Regions from separate parts of the Homo sapiens genome. Here region 1 is linked to region 2. The links come from fine-mapping of genetic effects on gene expression. A gene starts in region 2. The other region holds a variant in brackets. All regions are shown on one strand. Distances are between the middles of the regions. Region 1 overlaps TBC1D22A (TBC1 domain family member 22A). Region 2 holds the start of TBC1D22A (TBC1 domain family member 22A).

What was found. PIP is the estimated chance that this variant, and not a neighbour inherited with it, causes the effect.
Region 1: its variant is fine-mapped to the expression of TBC1D22A in nucleus accumbens (GTEx, PIP 0.92).

What each region holds. Positions count from the first base shown.
Region 1 is chr22:47,169,541-47,178,454 of GRCh38, forward strand. TBC1D22A (TBC1 domain family member 22A) reads left to right here. Exons shown (of 13, transcript NM_014346.5): 13 at 3,958-6,153. The coding sequence ends at 4,086. Among named protein-coding and RNA genes, the nearest start is that of TBC1D22A-AS1, 260 kb to the left of the region's middle. RefSeq lists enhancers at 1,714-2,213, 6,311-7,401. The variant ATGGACCACTCCTGCCC/A (reference allele first, on the strand shown) is at 5,133.
Region 2 is chr22:46,759,119-46,768,032 of GRCh38, forward strand. It overlaps TBC1D22A (TBC1 domain family member 22A), which reads left to right and starts at 3,532. Exons shown (of 13, transcript NM_014346.5): 1 at 3,532-3,730. The coding sequence starts at 3,669. TBC1D22A-DT (TBC1D22A divergent transcript) reads right to left here and starts at 3,410. Exons shown (of 1, transcript NR_186691.1): 1 at 2,793-3,410. RefSeq lists enhancers at 2,579-3,413, 3,150-3,279, 3,980-4,059, 4,990-5,059, 5,100-5,179 and 1 more and a silencer at 4,180-4,239.

The sequences.
Region 1 (8,914 bases), 410 kb after region 2:
GCTTTTGATCCCTCACTGATCACAGACCCCACAGCCTTTACAAAGGGCCCTTGCAGACACTCGGTGTCCACTGGAAGGATTCTCGGCACACAGGCTGATGGAGAAAGGCAGGGTGCACTCCACGCTGCCCTCTGGCTGTGGCTTTGTTGAGATGGTGGTGCCCCAGGGACCGGGGGAGGGACGGATTGCAGACCTGACGCGACCTTGACTTCTACAGCATCAGTGTGATGAGCAGAGCCTTCCTTTAACTTTTAGATCCACAGATGTGGCCATTAATTGTTTATGGAAAAGTTAAGAATGAAAATGCAAGTGCCGTCTATAGTTTTCTGGGCTGGGCCCTGGGCAGGCCTCTCTCCACCTGCCCTCCTGGACAGGCAGCACCGTCATTGCTGGGAGAGCCATGTCCCTGAATGTGACCGAGGGATGGCTTCGCCCGTGGTGGCCCCTCTGCCTGCCTGGTGTGGGTGATGCAGAACAGCTCTTGGCTAATAAATGTGCCGCGTTTCCCAGACAGGAGACGACGTGGCCTAGTGCATAAATAAGACAAGCCTTTTTAAAAAAGAAATCTGTATTTAAGGATGTGTTTGGCTGTGTTCTTCTCCTCCCGTAAAGGTCACCCAGATAGATTTTTCCTTCTTTAGCATTGCAGGCTGCGAAGAACTGGGCATTTCTATTCTCCCTCCATCCAGTGAACCTGGCGGACTAAATTAGATTCTGAAATTGAGTGTGCAGTAGAGTCGGTGAGTTACCGTAATGGGAGGGTACTGCTTCTCACCTTGCAAGGAGCGAGGTCATGATAATATGAAGCGAAGTGGATTAAAAATAAAACCAAAGGTATTTATTTATGACCTGCTCAGAATTGGATTGGCATCCATGTAAGTTGCATCTAATGGTGAAAGACAGCAGATTGATGTTGATATGTCCCCAGGGACTTTTAGCCAGTGAAATTCGCTCCCTGAATTCAATTTAAAGGCCCACTGAAAGTATCCAAAATGCGAAAGGAAATGGAATTGAGGAAGTGGGGGTGGAAGCCCAGCAACTGCGAAATAGCAATTGGAAGACGGTCCTGGTGTGTAACCCTCCTGATGCAGGACCGGAGAGAGGACAGTCCTGGTGTGTAACCCTCCTGATGCAGGACCAGAGAGAGGACAGTCCTGGTGTGTAACCCTCCTGATGCAGGACCGGAGAGAGGACAGTCCTGGTGTGTAACCCTCCTGATGCAGGACCGGAGAGAGGACAGTCCTGGTGTGTAACCCTCCTGATGCAGGACCGGAGAGAGGGCAGTCCTGGTGTGTAACCCTCCTGATGCAGGACCGGAGAGAGGACAGTCCTGGTGTGTAACCCTCCTGATGCAGGACCGGAGAGAGGGCAGTCCTGGTGTGTAATCTTCCTGATTCGGAAATGGAGAGCGCAGCTCCGGGATGGCCGGGGGGCCTGCCTCAGTGAGGGTGGGGCAACATGCAGACGGCAGCCTCCGGCACAGCCAGGATGTGAGCCCAGGTCATCTGTCCAGGCTCTGTGCCTGCACAGCTCAGCTCATCCTGGCTGTGCCTATGTGGAGAGCCTGCCATCCTTATCTCCAGATGAAGAAGAGTGTGGCTTGGAGAGCCAGGCCCACTGCCCAAGACCACCTGGACAGGAAGACAGGATGTGAACTTCAGAGCCCAGCTACCCCCCATTCCCCTCCATGCCAGTCTTGCTGGGCTGCGTTTTCTCGAGGCAGGCGACATGGGCATCCCGAGCCTGTGGCCCTCCCTGTCCCTTGTCACCTGCTAGGAGTGGGGAAGGGCAGTTCCAGCACCCTGAGGGCTCCTCAGCCGCCTTCCTGACTTCCTGGATCCAGCTTCTGTTTGGGGTGGGAGGTAGGAGAAGCCGGGGAGCCTGCAGGTGGCCCCCTGGGGGCAAATTCTCGAGGACCAGAGCCCACAGGGCCATCTGAGCAGTGTAGACCCCTCCCTCAGGGAGTCTGCCCAGCTTCATGACAGAGCCTGGGCTTGGGCTGGCCCTGACCTGATGGTCCCCTGTTTCTCTTCTGAGAACCCCCACTGCAGGAGGCTGTCTTGGCCACTCAGCCCTCTCTGATCCCTACTTCTGCCAAGCCCTCTGTGTGTTGGGGTCCCCGGAGACCTGCCCTGCCCTTGGTGGGCTGCCAGCAGCTGTGGATGTGGGCGTGGTCATGTGGGAGGGCGGGGCTGTCAGGCGGTGGTCGTGGGGGGTCCCCCGAGGACCTGTGCTTTTCCTTCCCCGTTGTGGCCTCAGTGGACGTAGGTCAGTCTCCATCTCCTCAGTGTCCGCATCCCGGCCTCCAGACCATGAGCTCTGGAGACAGTCGCCCATGTGTCTTTTGGGGGTGGGACTCAGTGCCCCCATAGCCCATCTGAGACACGGCCCAGCTGCAGGCCAGAGGAGCCCACCCAGCACTCCCAGTAAGCCCAACGCACCTGCCCAGTGCGCCCGGTGAGCCCAGTGTGCCTACCCAGCACTCCCAGTGAGCCTACCCAGCACTCCCAGTGAGCCTACCCAGCACTCCCAGTGAGCCTACCCAGCACTCCCAGTGAGCTGTGTGCTCACCCAGAGTGCCCAGTGAGCCCAGTGAGTCCGGTGTGCCCGCCCGGTGTTCCCACCCAGCATGCCCAGTGAGCCTTGTGTGTCCACCCAGTGTGCCCGCTCAGTGAGCCTGGTGTGTCTACCTAGCATGCCCATGGAGCCCACTGTGTGCCCACCCAGTGCTGGCTGTACTGCTGGCCGTATGTGTGTTTTCCCAGTCTGTCCAGCAGCCCTGACAGTAATTTACTACAGTAAATAAAAATTTGTACTATGTGAATTCAATGCAATAAATGCTGTGACTGGGAAGTAGAATGGGAGAATGAAGGGTACAGGAGGCGAGATTTTAAAAATACACATGTAAGATGATTTTATCCACACTGAACGACTTATAATTGTTGCTTATTCCCTATAGTTCCCTATTTTCCTACTTACATGCATGTCATTCACCTTTATGTAAAACCTTTTACCTCCTATCTTTACCTATGAGAATCCTACCTGAATTTTAAGAGTCTGATCAAATGTCACTTCCACAGAAAGGCCTTCTTTGGTTGTAACTGGAATTAATTTTTAAATCTCAGTCTAAGGCAAATAAGCACATTAGAAAGCAATAAATAAATAAATGGTGGCCCCATTTTGCAGAGGAGGAAGCTGGGCCTCGGGGTGGAGTCATTGTTCCAGGGCACCAGGTTGGACCTAGACCTGAAGCTGGGTTTGGTGGAGCCCTGCACCCCAACCCACTGGTGTGAGGTGGTCATGCAGGAGGGGCCAGTTGGCGCTTTGCTGTGCTCCTGGGCTCCCGGGGTGGGCCTGAGCCGGCTCCGTTCTGTGATCCCCTCGTGTGGGCTTCATCTGCTGATGGTGCTGGTGCCCGGAGGGGTCTCCTGGTGCACAGAAATCTGTGCTTAGTGGCAGTTCCAGGGGTGCTGCGGTACTTCCTGGGCTGATACAGGCTTTGTGGGAGTGGGAAGCTCCTGGGCGGAGGCTGCAAAGCTGCAGCAGGGCCCCGAGAGCTGGGTCTCCCCCTGAGGGGCAGGGGATTCAGTTAAATGAAGCTCTGGGCGGCCCCTGCCACGACATCTCAGATGCCGGACTTGGAGCTGCGCAGTGGGCCTCCTGCCTGGCTGCTGGGATGGGGCGGTGGCCGTGGGGCGAGGCCTGGGGCCCTTCTGGGGTTGAGCAGGGAGCAGCTGCCGGCTGGGCAAGTTTTCCTGGGTCACCCACCCTCCACTGTGGGTCACCTCCTCTGACCTGGGCTTGTGTCTTTCTCTCCAGTTTTCCTGGATCACCCGCCCTGCACCGTGGGTCACCTCCTCTGACCTGGGCTTGTATCTTTCCCTCCAGTTTTCTGGGGTCACCCGCCCTCCACCGTGGGTCACCTCCTCTGACCTGGGCTTGTCTCTTTCTCCCCAGGAGCTGCTGCTCTTCCTCCAGAACCTGCCCACAGCCCACTGGGATGATGAGGACATCAGCCTGTTGCTGGCCGAGGCCTACCGCCTCAAGTTTGCTTTTGCCGACGCCCCCAATCACTACAAGAAATGAGCCCAGGCCCACCCGCAGCTGGCCTCACTGTCCCGGGTGGCGCGCCCCACCTGCCTGGCTGGTGGTAGGCCCCTGTGAGCTGGTCCCGGGCTGCTAAAAGGCCTTGTGAGGTGGCCCCACCCTCCAGGGGAGCTGGTGAAGATGGGCCACAGACCTGGTCTAGGGCTGACAAAGACAGGGACAGCCTTTGTTTTCTGAGATACCAAAGAGAGCCAGGGGAGGGCCCCGGGTTCGGCGGCCAGAGGCAGGTCAGGGGTCCCCTCTCCCTCTCCCTGCAATGTCCTTGCCAAATGACTGCCTCGTGCTGCCCCTAGTCCGGGGCAGCCTAGGAGGCCGACCCTCTTTGGAGTCCTGCTGTCTGGGTGCCAGGGCCGGAACGAGGTAGTGGCCATCTCATACCTACTCTGAAATGCAAAACTTCTATTCTGTTGAGTGAAAGAATAAAATGTAGACAAAATCTAGACCGAGACGTTGCGCTGACCCGGGGTCTCTGTGCCGCGAGGTCCCCTCACAGCTGTATTTCACTGCTGCTGGCCCTTTCCCTCCGTGTGTTTTCCTGCTTGCTTGGTTTAAACGTGGCTGGGAAGCTGAAGGCTGGAGTCCAAGCCGTGAGCCCGCCGAGTGCCTGGGAGGCCGTGGGACCAAAGGCTGGGAGCAGAGGGAGGCCTCGCCATCGCCTTACTTTCCACCTTGAACCTCTTTTACAAGAGAGAAACCCCCACCTCCCTGAGGTCCAGGGCCAAGTGGCCCCGCCACGCAGGTAGGCGCCGGCCTCAGCCAGAGCCCCTGGAGGCCCACCCAGGCTGTCGGGCCATGTTGGGCTGGCAGACGGGCAGGGGGTCGCGTCCCTGTCATCAAAGCCCTGAACCACAGTGCTCTTCTCACCGCAGCCTGGAAGCGGAATGAGCTTTTGGAGACTTCCTGGGACTTGCTGTCCTTGTCCAGGTCTGCCAGGTGTAGGGGAGGTGTGACTGGTTCCATCATGGACCGGTTCCTCCATGGACCGGTTCCTCCGTGGACCGGTTCCGCCATGGACCGGTTCCGCC[ATGGACCACTCCTGCCC/A]TGGACCACTCCTGCCCTGGACCGGTTCTGCCGTGGACTGGTTCCCGCCGTGGACCAGTTCCCGCTGTATACTGGTTCTGCCCTGGACTGGTTCCCGCTGTGGACTGGTTCCTTGGGGCTCTAAGTGCGGAAGGGCCCAGAGCTGGTCCCTGCCCAGCGCCCTGCTAGGGCTGTGTCCTTGGCTCCAGGGGCCTTGGGACTGGCTTCCCAGCGTTCCCTCGGTGTGTCACAGGCTGCATGACCCCTGGAATGCGGGCAGGGCCACAGCCACAGTCTGTCTGATCCCTGAGCCCAGGACAGGCTCACGTCCTCAGCGACCCACTGGTGACTGACTTCCCAGACTCTCCTCTGTCCCTCAGGAGCAGCCGTGTCCTCTCCCAGGCCCTAGGACACTGCCAGAGACTGTGGGACATACAGGCATAAGTGATGTGTGTGTTTCTGCTTCTGTTTTAAAAATCCAGGGTCATTACACACAGCATGGAAATTAGCACAAAATGCTGTGCAAACGTCAGATGCTCCCAAACCAGCAAAGGGATGGGCTTGCTTCACATCAGATGCGGGCACGCCTTACCCCTGCCTTCCGTGTCCCCACCCCAGGGTCAAGGGTTCCTCAGACCAGCCATGCCTCCTCCTCCTGCCGCCTCCTTTTCTAGATGGGGAGGGGATTCCGTCACAAGAAGAGCCGCCCCTCGGCCGTGTGCAGGAAGCCCCATGTCGCTTTGCCGAGATCAGCCCTGGGAGGATCCCCTTCTCCAGCTCAGATCATGCCGTGTGGCCAGAAGGCTGCGGACACAACTGACCTGCTTCTCGAGGTGGTTGATGTTTTAAACAGGAAGCTCCACGGAGTTCAGCCCTGTGTGCATTTCCTCATGTATGTAAACGCCAAGACTGAATGTGAGAGGTGTTGGCCGCGGGCCTTAAGTCTGAGCAGATCCATCTGGAATGTTCGGGGTGTGCTGTCTGGATGTGGTGCGCTAAAAACACGGAATAAAGATCAGTGACAAAGCCGCGGCCTTGGCCTGTGATTCGAGGACTTGCCCATCGAGGACAGGGGCACCCTGGCCCAGCCCTGCCGAGGGTCTGAGCTCAGGGCCATTGCGGCGCACCAGCGTGGGCCCGGCAGCACCCGTGATCTCGCTGCCCCCCGCAGGACCTCTCAGGGAGATGGGGCTGCAGCTGCTCAGGTGGTGCAGGGATGCCACTTGCCCGGGCGGGGCAAGACTCAGAAACCAGTCTGACCCCCGAAGCCCGGCTCTGCACTAGCTGGAACACGGGAGTGTGGGGTCCAGGCTGGCCCCTGTCAGGCTCCTGAACAAGGGACCTCCCCTTGGGCCACATCTGTCAAGCACCTGCTTTGAAAAGGGCTGTTCCGGGGTAGGCACCAGGGTCTGGGGTCCCCCCCGCCTCTCCTGGGATACACTTGCCTCACCCTCACCCACACACTGAAACACCCTCCTTGCCCTGTGTTACTGAAGCAAGGCCCTTCAAAGGGCCTCAGTTTCTCAGGGCAGCTTTCCAGGTGCGCCACACCCCTCTGAGTAACCCCGTCTGGGTGCCCCACCCTCAGGTACCCCACACCCCCCTGGGTGCCCCACCCTCGGGACCCTCCCTTGGCAGCACTTGGCTTTCCACTGCCTTGTGCTGTCCGCTGACGGGTGTGGGGTGTGCTCCTGTCCCCGCGGGTGTGGGGTGTGCCCCTGTCCCCGCGGGTGTGGGGTGTGCCCCTGTCCCCGCGGGTGTGGGGTGTGCCCCTGTCCCCGCGGGTGTGGGGTGTGCCCCTGTCCCCGCGGGTGTGGGGTGTGCCCCTGTCCCCGCGGGTGTGGGGTGTGCCCCTGTCCCCGCGGGTGTGGGGTGTGCTCCTGTCCCCGCGGGTGTGGGGTGTGCACTACTGACCGGCTGTGGGGTGTGCTCCAGTCCCCACGGGTGTGGGGTGTGCTCCTGTCCCCACGGGTGTGGGGTGCGCACTACTGACCAGGTGTGGGGTGTGCTCCTGTCCCCGTAGGTGTGGGGTGTGCTCCTGTCCCCACGGGTGGGCTGGTGGCTCCACAAAGTGGGAGTAGCCTCTTCACCTCTCTTTCCACAGTGACCCAGTGCGGAGCTGAGCCAGGCAGGGCTGCCTTCCTGGGCCCGGTGGCCCGGCACATGGGCTGACCTCACTGTTGCCTGGCTGTGGTCTGCAGGGTCGTAGGCTGCAGGACGGAGATCGGCTGTCCCCAGCAGCCACCAGGTGTTCAGCTCCTGACTCCAGGTCACAGCCCAGCAACTGCCATTCACCTTCACGATTCCCCGGAGTTTGCAGCTCAGCAGTTGGCTCCTCGGGCCCAACTTGAGGTCTTCACAGCCTGTGCAGACTCTGCTCCTGTGGGTGGCCCGAGCCCAGGGGTCCTGAAATCAATCCCTGACCTGTGGTGGCTGCTGTCCTGTGCACCTCACCCTGCCCGGTCCCAGGGAGAGGCTCGGCCTGCTGGCACCACTGCTGTGCCCTTGGCAAGGTCAGACGCGTCGGGGAGCATTGGGGTCCTGGGGAGTAGGAGATGGAGAGTCTCTGTGGTTTGTACTTTTGGAAGAACTAGGAGGTGGGACGCTTCTGTGCCGTGTCACCGATGGATGGAAACAGGAGGAATACTGTCTGTGTTCAAGCAGACCCACTCCGCTGAGGACTTGGGGACAGGCTGCAGAATGACACGCGCCATCGCAGGCTGCAGCATGCCAGCCTCCATGCCGCCGTCCTCCAGAGCTGGAGGCTCCTCGTCAGCCCTGTGGCCCCAGTGATCTGCTCTCGGCCGCAGTCCTGGGGAGTTTGCCCAAGACTCAGACCCCTCGGGGTGTGGACCTCCCTGGGGCCTTCCCAGCCCCAGTCCACCCCACCGTTCCTCTCCTCTCTCAGCCCCAGCCCCTTGGCTTCCTTCTGGCTCTGCACTTTGCCCTGCGGGATTGCGGGCTGCTTGGGGTGGCCCCCACTCAGCTGTGAGGCCTTTCCACACCCACCCTGCAGCTCCTTGGCATGGAGGGTCCCCAGCACAGGATGGCCTCCACCCAGGAGGCACACGGCCGCTTACATGGTCCTGTGTGAGTGACCCAGCCGTAGTCCATTTTGTTGACAAGATGAGGCTGGCTATTCTTTCTTTTTTTATTTTTTTATTTCTTGAGACAGGGTCTTGCTCTGTGGCCCAGGCTGGAGTGCAGTGGTGTGATCTCAGCTCACTGCAACCTCTGCCTCCTGGGTTCAAGTGATTCTAATGCCTCAGCCTCCCGAGCAGCTGGGATGACAGGTGCCCGCCATGACACGCAGCTAATTTTTTTAGTAGTTTTAGTAGAGACGGGGTTTCACCATGTTGTCCAGGCTGGTCTCGAACTCCTGACCTCAACTGATCTGCCCACCTCGACCTCCCAAAGTGCTGGGATTATAGGTGTGAGCCATCGCGCCCGGCCTGATTATTCTTTTAGGAAAAAAAATTATATTCAACTTCCAGATAAGTGGATGTAAATATAAAAATTACCCCCAAATACTCAAAAATACATGGCTATTTTTATCATTGGGAATGGTAAAAGGCTTTCTTAGCATGACGCCAGTGGCAAAAACAAGATAGAAAAAGACTGATGATATATATCCGTAGTATGCGCTACCAAAGCAAATGGCAGGGACGACTAAGACCCAACCTTCATCACCAAAGACAAGTGTGAATGACACGCTGGTTCACCTAGGCAAGGCGGATTCAGATTCCTCAGCATGCGGAGTTCCTGGAAATTGATAAAAATGGGCACA
Region 2 (8,914 bases):
CAGCCTTAGGAAACCAATACAGATAGAACAGTCAGCTTTTTACTTTGGGGCACAGGCTCGGTGCCTATGGACGGTACAGCACCAGGAAACTTAGGAGGCAGAACCCACCAAGTGGGAGTGTGGCAGCTCACTCAGTAAGGTCCTGTGAGAGATATTCTAAGCCCGGAGCAGGCCATCTGAAAGCAAAGAAAGCAGAAAACACTTCCCGAGGAACCCAAATGGCATTGCAAATCCAGCCATCCTGAAATACTATCCCAATTTTTTTTTGTTTGTTTTTTTGAGGCAGGGTCTCACTGTTTTCTAGGCTGGAGTGCAGTTGTGTGATCCTAGCTCACTGCTGCCTTGAACTTCTGGGCTCAAGTGATCCTCCTGCCTCAGTCTCCTAAGTAGCTAGGACTAAGAGTGTTTACCACCATGACTGGCTAAAAGAAAAAAAAAAAAGTTTCACAGAGATGGGGTCTCCCTATGTTGCCCAGGCTAGTGTTGATCTCCTGGTCTCAAGTGATCCTCTCGCCTCAGCCTCCCAAAGTACTGGTATTATAGGTGTGAGCCACTGTGCCTGGCCTGCTGCACTTTTGTTTGCCTTATCATGTAGTTCAATGTAGCTCAGTGCATAGCACAGTTCAAACTCAATAACTATATTTTAATGTATTATGAAACATTTTATACATGTAAAAACTCATAAAGAATATAACCAACACCTGAATATAGCCCATCTGCCTTAGGAAACAAAGCATAATAGCACAATTGATCCGCTATGAATGAATTCCTTCCTGTTCACAGTCCCCACCTGTACCTATAGGCAACCACCCTCCTGAATTTATCTTTTACCATTCTGGTTTTTTTTTTTTTTTTTTGAGATAGGGTTTGGCACTATCGCCAAGGCTGGAGTGCAGTGACATGATCACAGCTTGCTGCAGCCTCAAACTCCTGGGCTCAAGGGATCCTCCTGCCTCAGCCTCCTAAAGTGCTGCGATTACAGGCATGAGCCACCATACCTGGTCGCATTCTCATCCTTTAAAAGAAAATAGTACTAAATGGTATCATACCATGTGAATTAATATTCAACTTTTTCTCATTCAACACTGTGGAGTCAGGTGCGGTAGTGCTTGCATCTGTACTCAGCTACTCAGGAGGCTGAGGTGGATCACTTGAGCCCAGGATTTTGTGGCCAGCCGGGGGAACATAGTAAGCCCCATTTCAAAAACAACCCCACAGTTTGCAAAATTCATTTATGTTGATGTATGCAACTAATGTATTCATTTTTACTAACTTATGGTATTCTACTGCATAACTGTGTAGATTATCGATTCTGCCATAGATGGCATTTTGGTTGCTTCTCCCCCAGACCCCAACTACCACTAGAAGCAACGTTGCACTGAACATTCTTGTGTTTGCACGCATAGGCAAGGTACTCTAGAGCACATACCAAGAGTGGAATTGCTAAGTTATAGAGTATCTTTGCTAGAAATTGCTAAGTGGCCATCCAAAGTTAGTGAATGAACGTACACTCCTACTGGCAGTGCAAGAGAGTTCTGCTCTGCTCACAAATCCACATCCTTATTAAGTTTGGTAAAGACAGGTTTTTAAGTTTTTGCCAATCTGTTAAGTGTAACATGGTATGTCCTTAGTTTTAATTTGCATTGCTGCTCAATACTTGTTGCAAAAATGAATAAAAAATGTTCCATTCCATACCTCTGGGATTTGAGAATCTGTCCCAATTCCTAGGTCCCATATGTAGACTCCAACATCTGTATTACTTTGGCTTTCAAAACTGGCCTTCTACTCAGACTTTCTTTTTCCATCTTCACGTTTCTGTTGTGATCCTAGTAATCCTTTGCTTAGCTGGTTTTGAAGCCTTCAAGTCAATCTCAGCCTCACTCCTTCGCCTGAAAACAGTAGCTAGCAAAGTATACGGTAAGCTATAAAAAGCACCCGGATCTAAGGTGTAACCAGTCACTAAGTGCTGCCAGTTTTTCCTCTGTCAATTGTTTCAGTTCTTCCTTCCTTTCCCCTTCCATCAGGTTAATCCTGCTGTCACCTCGCTCACTGGTTCTTGCAATAAGCCAGACTGAGCTGGAAAGAACCGCCATGGTCCTCAGTGTTGTCTGTAGGGGACCTCACTGTCTGAGGCTGTCAGGGCTCTGTCAGGAGGAGACCCCTGGGGCCTTCTGAGCCCTACTAGGAGAGGATTCTAGGAGAGTAGGACGCCTTGCACATAGTAAGTACTAAGTCAATGTTACTTACCAGTAAATGAAGAGGCATGGGAAATTGTTATTATTTTTGAGACGGAGTTTCGCTCTGTCGCCCAGCCTGGAGTGCAGTGGCACGATCTGGGCTCACTGCAAGCTCTGCCTCACGGGTTCACGCTATTCTCCTGCCTCAGCCTCCAGGGAAATTCTTAATCAGAAAATATGTCTTAGATTTTTGTTTTAAAAGAGAACTGGCAGGAGCTCCAAATACACTAAAGCTCCAGTCTGAAATGACAGTCCCTGAGCATTCAATCTTTGGTCTAAGAAGCACAGAAATGTAATGCAAACCAGACACGGTTTTTTTAGTGATTTTCTGCACACACACACACACACACACACACACACAGTAAAAAGATCTAGTCATAACGTGTGCACCTGCAGTTCCAACTACTGGGGAGGGTGAGGCAGGAGGATCACTAGAGGGCAGGAGTTCGAGACTAGCCTGGGCAACATAGCAAGACACCCACCCCCAGTCCCCCCCGGAAAAAAAGAATAAAAAAGGTAAAAATAATTTTAAAAAGAGTAAAAGGAATGTAAAAATAATTTTAATGCATTTTATTTAATCCAATACATTAAAAATGTTACCTAACATGCAAACAATATACAAATTATTTTATACGACGTCTTTGGAATCCTGTATTTTACACGTAAAGCGCATCTCACTCCGGACTAGCCAGGTTTCAAGCACGTGATAGCCGCACAAGGCTGGAACCCAGGCCTGGGGAATTAATTCTTGTCCTCGGTGCTCAAACCATTCTTCCCTTCAAGCCTGGCCTAATCCCCAGTCTCTCTCATCTCTTCGAATACGCTCCGCGGTTATGCCCCTCACCTCACTGCACTGCAAATATTTCGTCCACTGAGTATTTGCTGATCGTCACTCAGTGCCGGGTGACCCAGCTTGACCAGCACCCGCAGCCGCCCTGCCACTGTTGGGCCGGGTATGGTGTGTCTGGCTTCCCTCTGTTCTGGGCCGGCTCCGAAACGCGCTCAAGAGAAATCGGAATCAGACACGGGGCAGTTCAGCTTTGGAAATGAGGAGCTCGAGGCTCCTGGGAGTCCGTTGCGGGCAGGTGGGCGCCGCTGTTGTGTCGGGAGAGCCAGGAGCGACAGACTCAAACTCAGAAACCCAACCACCTCCGCTCCCTCCGCGATGCGTGTAACGTGCGTTGCGCGGCGTCGCCCTTTAATAACGACGGGCGCTCGGAGTGCTGCGTCACTCGCCACCAGGGACTTAGGCGGGACTTCCGGGCGCGCGTAGGCACAACTTCCGGAAGGAGGCGGAAGAGCTTCTCGGCTCTAGGCTCTGGAGTCCCGGGAGCAGTGAGGGGCCACCCGGGGCACAGGAAAGGGCCGCTAGGGGAGGGCCGGGTGCACTCGGGGTGTCTGGGCCGCGGGTCTGAGGGATGAGGAGGGGCCATGGCCAGCGACGGGGCCAGGAAGCAATTCTGGAAGCGCAGCAACAGCAAGCTCCCGGGCAGGTGGGTGTGCCGCGGAGGGCCAGGTCGGGGTCAGGGGTCAGAGGTCAGGTGGCCGCGTTGGCCTCCTGGGCTGCGGGTGGAGTCGGGGGTCTGGAGAGGGCAACTTGGACTCTGAGGAGACTGCTGGATGGTGTGACGGGCGTTGGGGGGCTCGGAGGTCGGAGCGTGGGGTCTGGGGGTGACAGTGGCTGCACGTAGGATCGAGGCTTGCAAGGACGAGGAGGAGCTATTGGCGTTTTTCCTGACACTGGCAGGCTTCTTTCCGAGAAACTCCTGGGCTCCTTGGGGAGGCTGGAAGGAACTGATTCGGGTCATGCTGTGAAGTTTGGTGGAGTCCGGAAGCTGGCCGGGCTGAGGCCCCCCGTCTGCTGGGTGGATCAGTTTCTGCAGGGGGTGTGGTGTTTTTGACCCACTTGATTTGCCTGTGGTCTCTTGAGGGCTGCGGCTCTTGCCTTGAGCATAGAAGAGGACTAGAGTTTCCCTGTGAGTTTCCATGTTTCTGCTTGCTGGTGTCAAAACCACCTCCTATGTTGTGTTAGCAGGAAGTTTTTTTTTTTTTTTTTTTTTTTTTTTTTTTTTTCTTCGGCTGGAATGACCTGGGTACACCCTAGATGCTATACAGCTCCAGAGCTCCAGAGTCCTTGTCTGATTGCTGTGGCGCTGAGCTATGCCAGGGCCCTAGGGAATGAGACATTACGTGGAGGGTACCTAGGATAAAATCAGCCACTGGTGAAAACAGATCAGAGATAAGCAAACGTCAAGATTTCAGAACATAGTTCTGTTCCAAAGCTGAAGTCTGGAATGCTGAAAATTATGAATTGTGTTACGAAGATAAGTCTGAGTAGAATCATTCATAAACACAGTAAAATGGTTTGTACTCCTGTTTCATAATAAATATTATTGTTTGAGTGTTTGAATGATAAACTTTGGAATTTACTGCATCCAGTTAGAAAAGTTTACTTTTGGCCAGGTGTGGCGGCTCACGCCTGTAATCCCAGCACTTTGGGAGGTCGAGGTGGACAGATCACCTGAGGTCAGGAGTTTGAGACCAGCCTCACCAACATGGAGAAACCTAGTCTCTACTAAAAATACAAAATTAGCTGGGCATGGTGGCACATGCCTGTAATCCTGGCTACTTGGGAGGCTGAGGCAGGAGAATCACTTGAACCTGGGAGGTGGAGGTTGCAGTGAGCCGAGATCGTTCCATTGCACTCCATCCTGGGCAATAAGAGCGAAACTCTGTCTCAAAAAAAAAAAGGAAAGTTTACTTTTAAGAGTGATCTGGGGGTTAGCAGCGTGAGTTACTGACAGCTCAGACAGTGGCTTTGAGAATGAAGGGAGTCATCAAAGGTGGCCGGAGACCCTATTCGACTCCACAGGACCGTGCTTGATTCGAGAACAGTAAGACCTTTCAACAAAACCAGTGTCAGGGTCCAAGGTGAGTGAAGATTCTGGAATGGTGGTGGGTAGGAGGTCCTGGTAGTGACAGGAACAAATGCTGTAGAACATAAGAGTCCAGGGAAGAGGAGCCACATGACAGTGTAACTTTTATGTGTTACTTTTAGGTCTTAAGGTTTTGGTTCCTCATCAGTCTAAACTCTAATTCTTAATCAGCTTAGATGTAAGAATAACAGAGCTGCTGTGTGGAGTTACAGCAGTGACTCAACCTTTGGATTGAAGGCTGTGGCTCTTGGTAATTTGTCCTTATACTGAGTTGAATTTATGTCCATCTGGAAACTATGGATGTGACATTTGGAAATAGGGTTTTTGCACAAGTAATCAAGGTAAAATGAGGTCATACTGGATGAGGGTGGGCCTTAGTTCGTCAACTAGTATTTTTATAAAAAGAGGGAAATTTGAATACAGAGAGACACACACAGGGAAATGGCCCTATGGAGACAGAAACAGAGATTGGAATAGTACATTTACAAGCCAAGGAAAGCCAGGGGTTGCTGGCAGCCACCAGAAGCTAGAAGAGGCAAGGAAGGATGCTCACCTAGAGACTTGACAGAGAGCATGGCCCTGCAGATGACCACTTGATTTTGGGTTTTTGGCGTTTAAAACTGAGAGAGAATAAGTGTCTGTTGTGTTAAGCCATTCAGTTGGTGGTAATTTGTTATGGCAGCCACAGGAGACTAATACAGTCTCCAGCTTTCTTCTGTGTGAACCTGAAATACCGAACACCAGCTTTCCTTTTCCTCTGACTTTGATGCTATTCTGTGTCTTAGGCACTTTTGAGAGCAGCTTCTGTATTACCTTTGTGAAGTTGGAGTCTTGGAGAGTTCGAGGCTGTCACTGAAGAGGGCAGAAGAAGAAGGAGAGGTTGGGTGCACCAGGAAGGCCTGTGAAGCCTCTGTGTCTCCCATCCGTCTTGTGGCTCAAGCCTCTGGCAGTGCTGCTCTTTCAGGTGGCAGGCTGGAACTCTTCCCTGAAGGAGGAGTCACAGAGGGGTGCCCGTTTTCCTATCAGTAGTGGTGATTGGTCACTAGCTGCGTATTTATTTAGTCCACACCTATGCAAGCACAGTGCTAGTGGAGATCCTAGCCAGGTTCCTGTGGCTTTGGCAGCTCTTTCAATTGTTTCCCATGATTGTTTTCTTTCTTTTTTTGTTTTTGTTTTTGTTTTTGTTTTTTTTGAGATGGAGTCTCACTGTGTTGCCCAGGCTGGAGTGCAGTGGTGTGATCTTGGCTCACTGCAACCTCTGCCTCCCAGGTTCAAGTGATTCTCCTGTCTCAGCCTCCCAAGTAGCTGGGATTACAGGCGCCCACCAGCACGCCTGTCTGTTTTTTTGTATTTTTAGTAGAGATGGGGTTTCGCCATGTCGGCCAGGCTAGTCTCGAACTCCTGACCTCAGGTGATCCATCCACCTCAGCCTCCCAAAGTGCTGGGATTATAGGCGTGAGCCTCCATGCCTGGCCTTGTTTTCCTCCTTTTTTTTTTTTTTTTTCTGAGACAAGAGTCTCTCTCTGTAGTCCAGGCTGGAGTGCAGTGGCATGATCTCAGCTCACTGCTACCTCCACCTCCTGGGTCCCGGTTGAAGCAGTTCTCCTGCCTCAGCCTCCTGAGTAGATGGGATTATAGGCACTGGCCACCACGCCCAGCTAATTTATGTGTGTGTGTGTGTGTGTGTGTGTGTGTGTGTGTGTGTGTGTGTGTGTATTTTTTTTGAGACGGAGTCTCACTCTGTTGTCCAGGCTGGAGTGCAGTGGTGCGATCTCGGCTCACTGCAAGCTCCGCCTCCCGGGTTCACGCCATTTTCCTGCCTCAGCCTCCCGAGTAGCTGGGACTACAGGCGCCTGCCACCACACCTGGCTAATTTTTTATATTTTTGGTAGAGACGGGGTTTCACCGTGCTAGCCAGGATAGTCTCGATCTCCTGACCTTGTGATCCTCCTGCCTCGGTCTCCCAACGTGCTGGGATTACAGGCTTGAGCCACTGTGCCCGGCAATTTTTGTATTTTTAGTAGAGATGGGGTTTCACCATGTTGGCCAGGCTGGTCTTGAACTCCTGATCATGTGATCCACCAGCTTCAGCCTCCCAAAGTTCTGGGATTACAGGCGTGAGCCACCACACCCAGCCTTGTTTTCCTCTTTGTTTTTGAGTGCAGCCCTCATCTCAAGGAAACTCAGGAGGAAGACTACACCCACTGTACAATACAAGACTAGTAAGGGATCTTTCAGATAGTTCAACTCTTTTTTATTTTTGAGATGGAGTCTCGCTCTGTCGCCCAGACTGGAGTGCAGTGGTGTGATCTAGACTCACTGCAATCACTGCCTCCCGGGTTCAAGTGATCTTCCTGCCTCTGCTGCCAAAGTAACTGGGATTACAGGCGCCCACCACCATGCCCAGCTAATTTTTTTGTATTTTTAGTAGAGATGTGGTTTCAACATGTTGGTGTGGATGGTCTCGATCTCTTGACCTCATGATCCGCCCGCCTTGGCCTCCCCAAGTGCTGAGATTCCAGGCATGAGCCACCGTGCCCGGCCCACACCTCCTGTTTTTATGCAGCCTGAACTAAAGTCCCCCTTTTTTGCATCAAACTCAGTGTTGTTGGTGCCTCTGGCTTCCTGTTCTCCCTGGTATGTGCTTGCTTTCACTAGTGAGATCCACAGGTTTAGGAAAAGTATCTTTCTCATTCTTGCATTGTCAGTACCGATACCTGGTGTTTATTCCGAACTATCTCCTCGATTAGCCTGGAGAGTGAGTGGTTTGGCCAGGGCTATAAACTGCAGGAGAGGTGGTCTTGCTGGTAGACCCTCGGTTTATGCACACCCTGGTCCTTAGGTTGCATATGTGGCTGACGCTTTCCTAGAAACTTTGTTTCTGGATGAGCCAGGATGTGTGGTGTGGTAGATAGACCCTCCTAGTCAGAGGACTAGGAGTTGGTGGTCCAGATTTTAACTTTCTTTTTCCGGTAGTGGTCTTCACCAAGTTACCTCTGGGGCCATCAGTGTCTGTATCTGTAGCACAAAGCGGTTGAGTTTGGTTTAAGTAGCTATGGCAAATGGGGAGATATCTTTGGCTTAGCACGATTCTCTTTGAGGAGAAAAGAATGGGCTTCTTGGACCAGTTTTGAGAATTTGATGATTTGCTGATCCAGCAAATATGTATTCAACCCATAGTATGTGTTAGGAACAGCCCCAGGTGCTGGAGATAATATTAGTGAACAAAATAGACCTAGATCTCTGCTCTCCCAGAGCTTACAGTGCAGTGGGAGAGCCGGGTATAAATAACATAGCTCAGTTAAATGGAGTTAACTGTTGGAAGGTGACAGCTGCTATCAAAACAATGCTGGGAAAGAGGACTAGGTGGCTTAGTGGCAGGTGTGGTGGTGAGAAGGAGCCCTTCACTGAGGTGACATTTGAGGAAAGATTTGCACGAGGTGAGGGAACAGGCCAACCAGGAGGCTGGGGAAGAGCGGTCCTGGCAGAGGAGTGAGCAGGTGCAGAGGACTCCCAGAGCGATGCTGGCGTGCTTGAGGAGAGGAGCTGGGGCCAGGGTGGGTCTGGCCGAGAGAAGGGGAGAGTCGTGGGGTGCGTCATGAAAGGTGGTGGGGTAGGGCCTCATGACCACAGTGAAGACATGGACTGTTCTTTGATTCTGGCTGAATGGGGAACCTTTGGAGGGCTTTGAGCAGAGAAGTGGCATGGTCTGCATTAGGTTTAATGGGATATCTTTGGCTG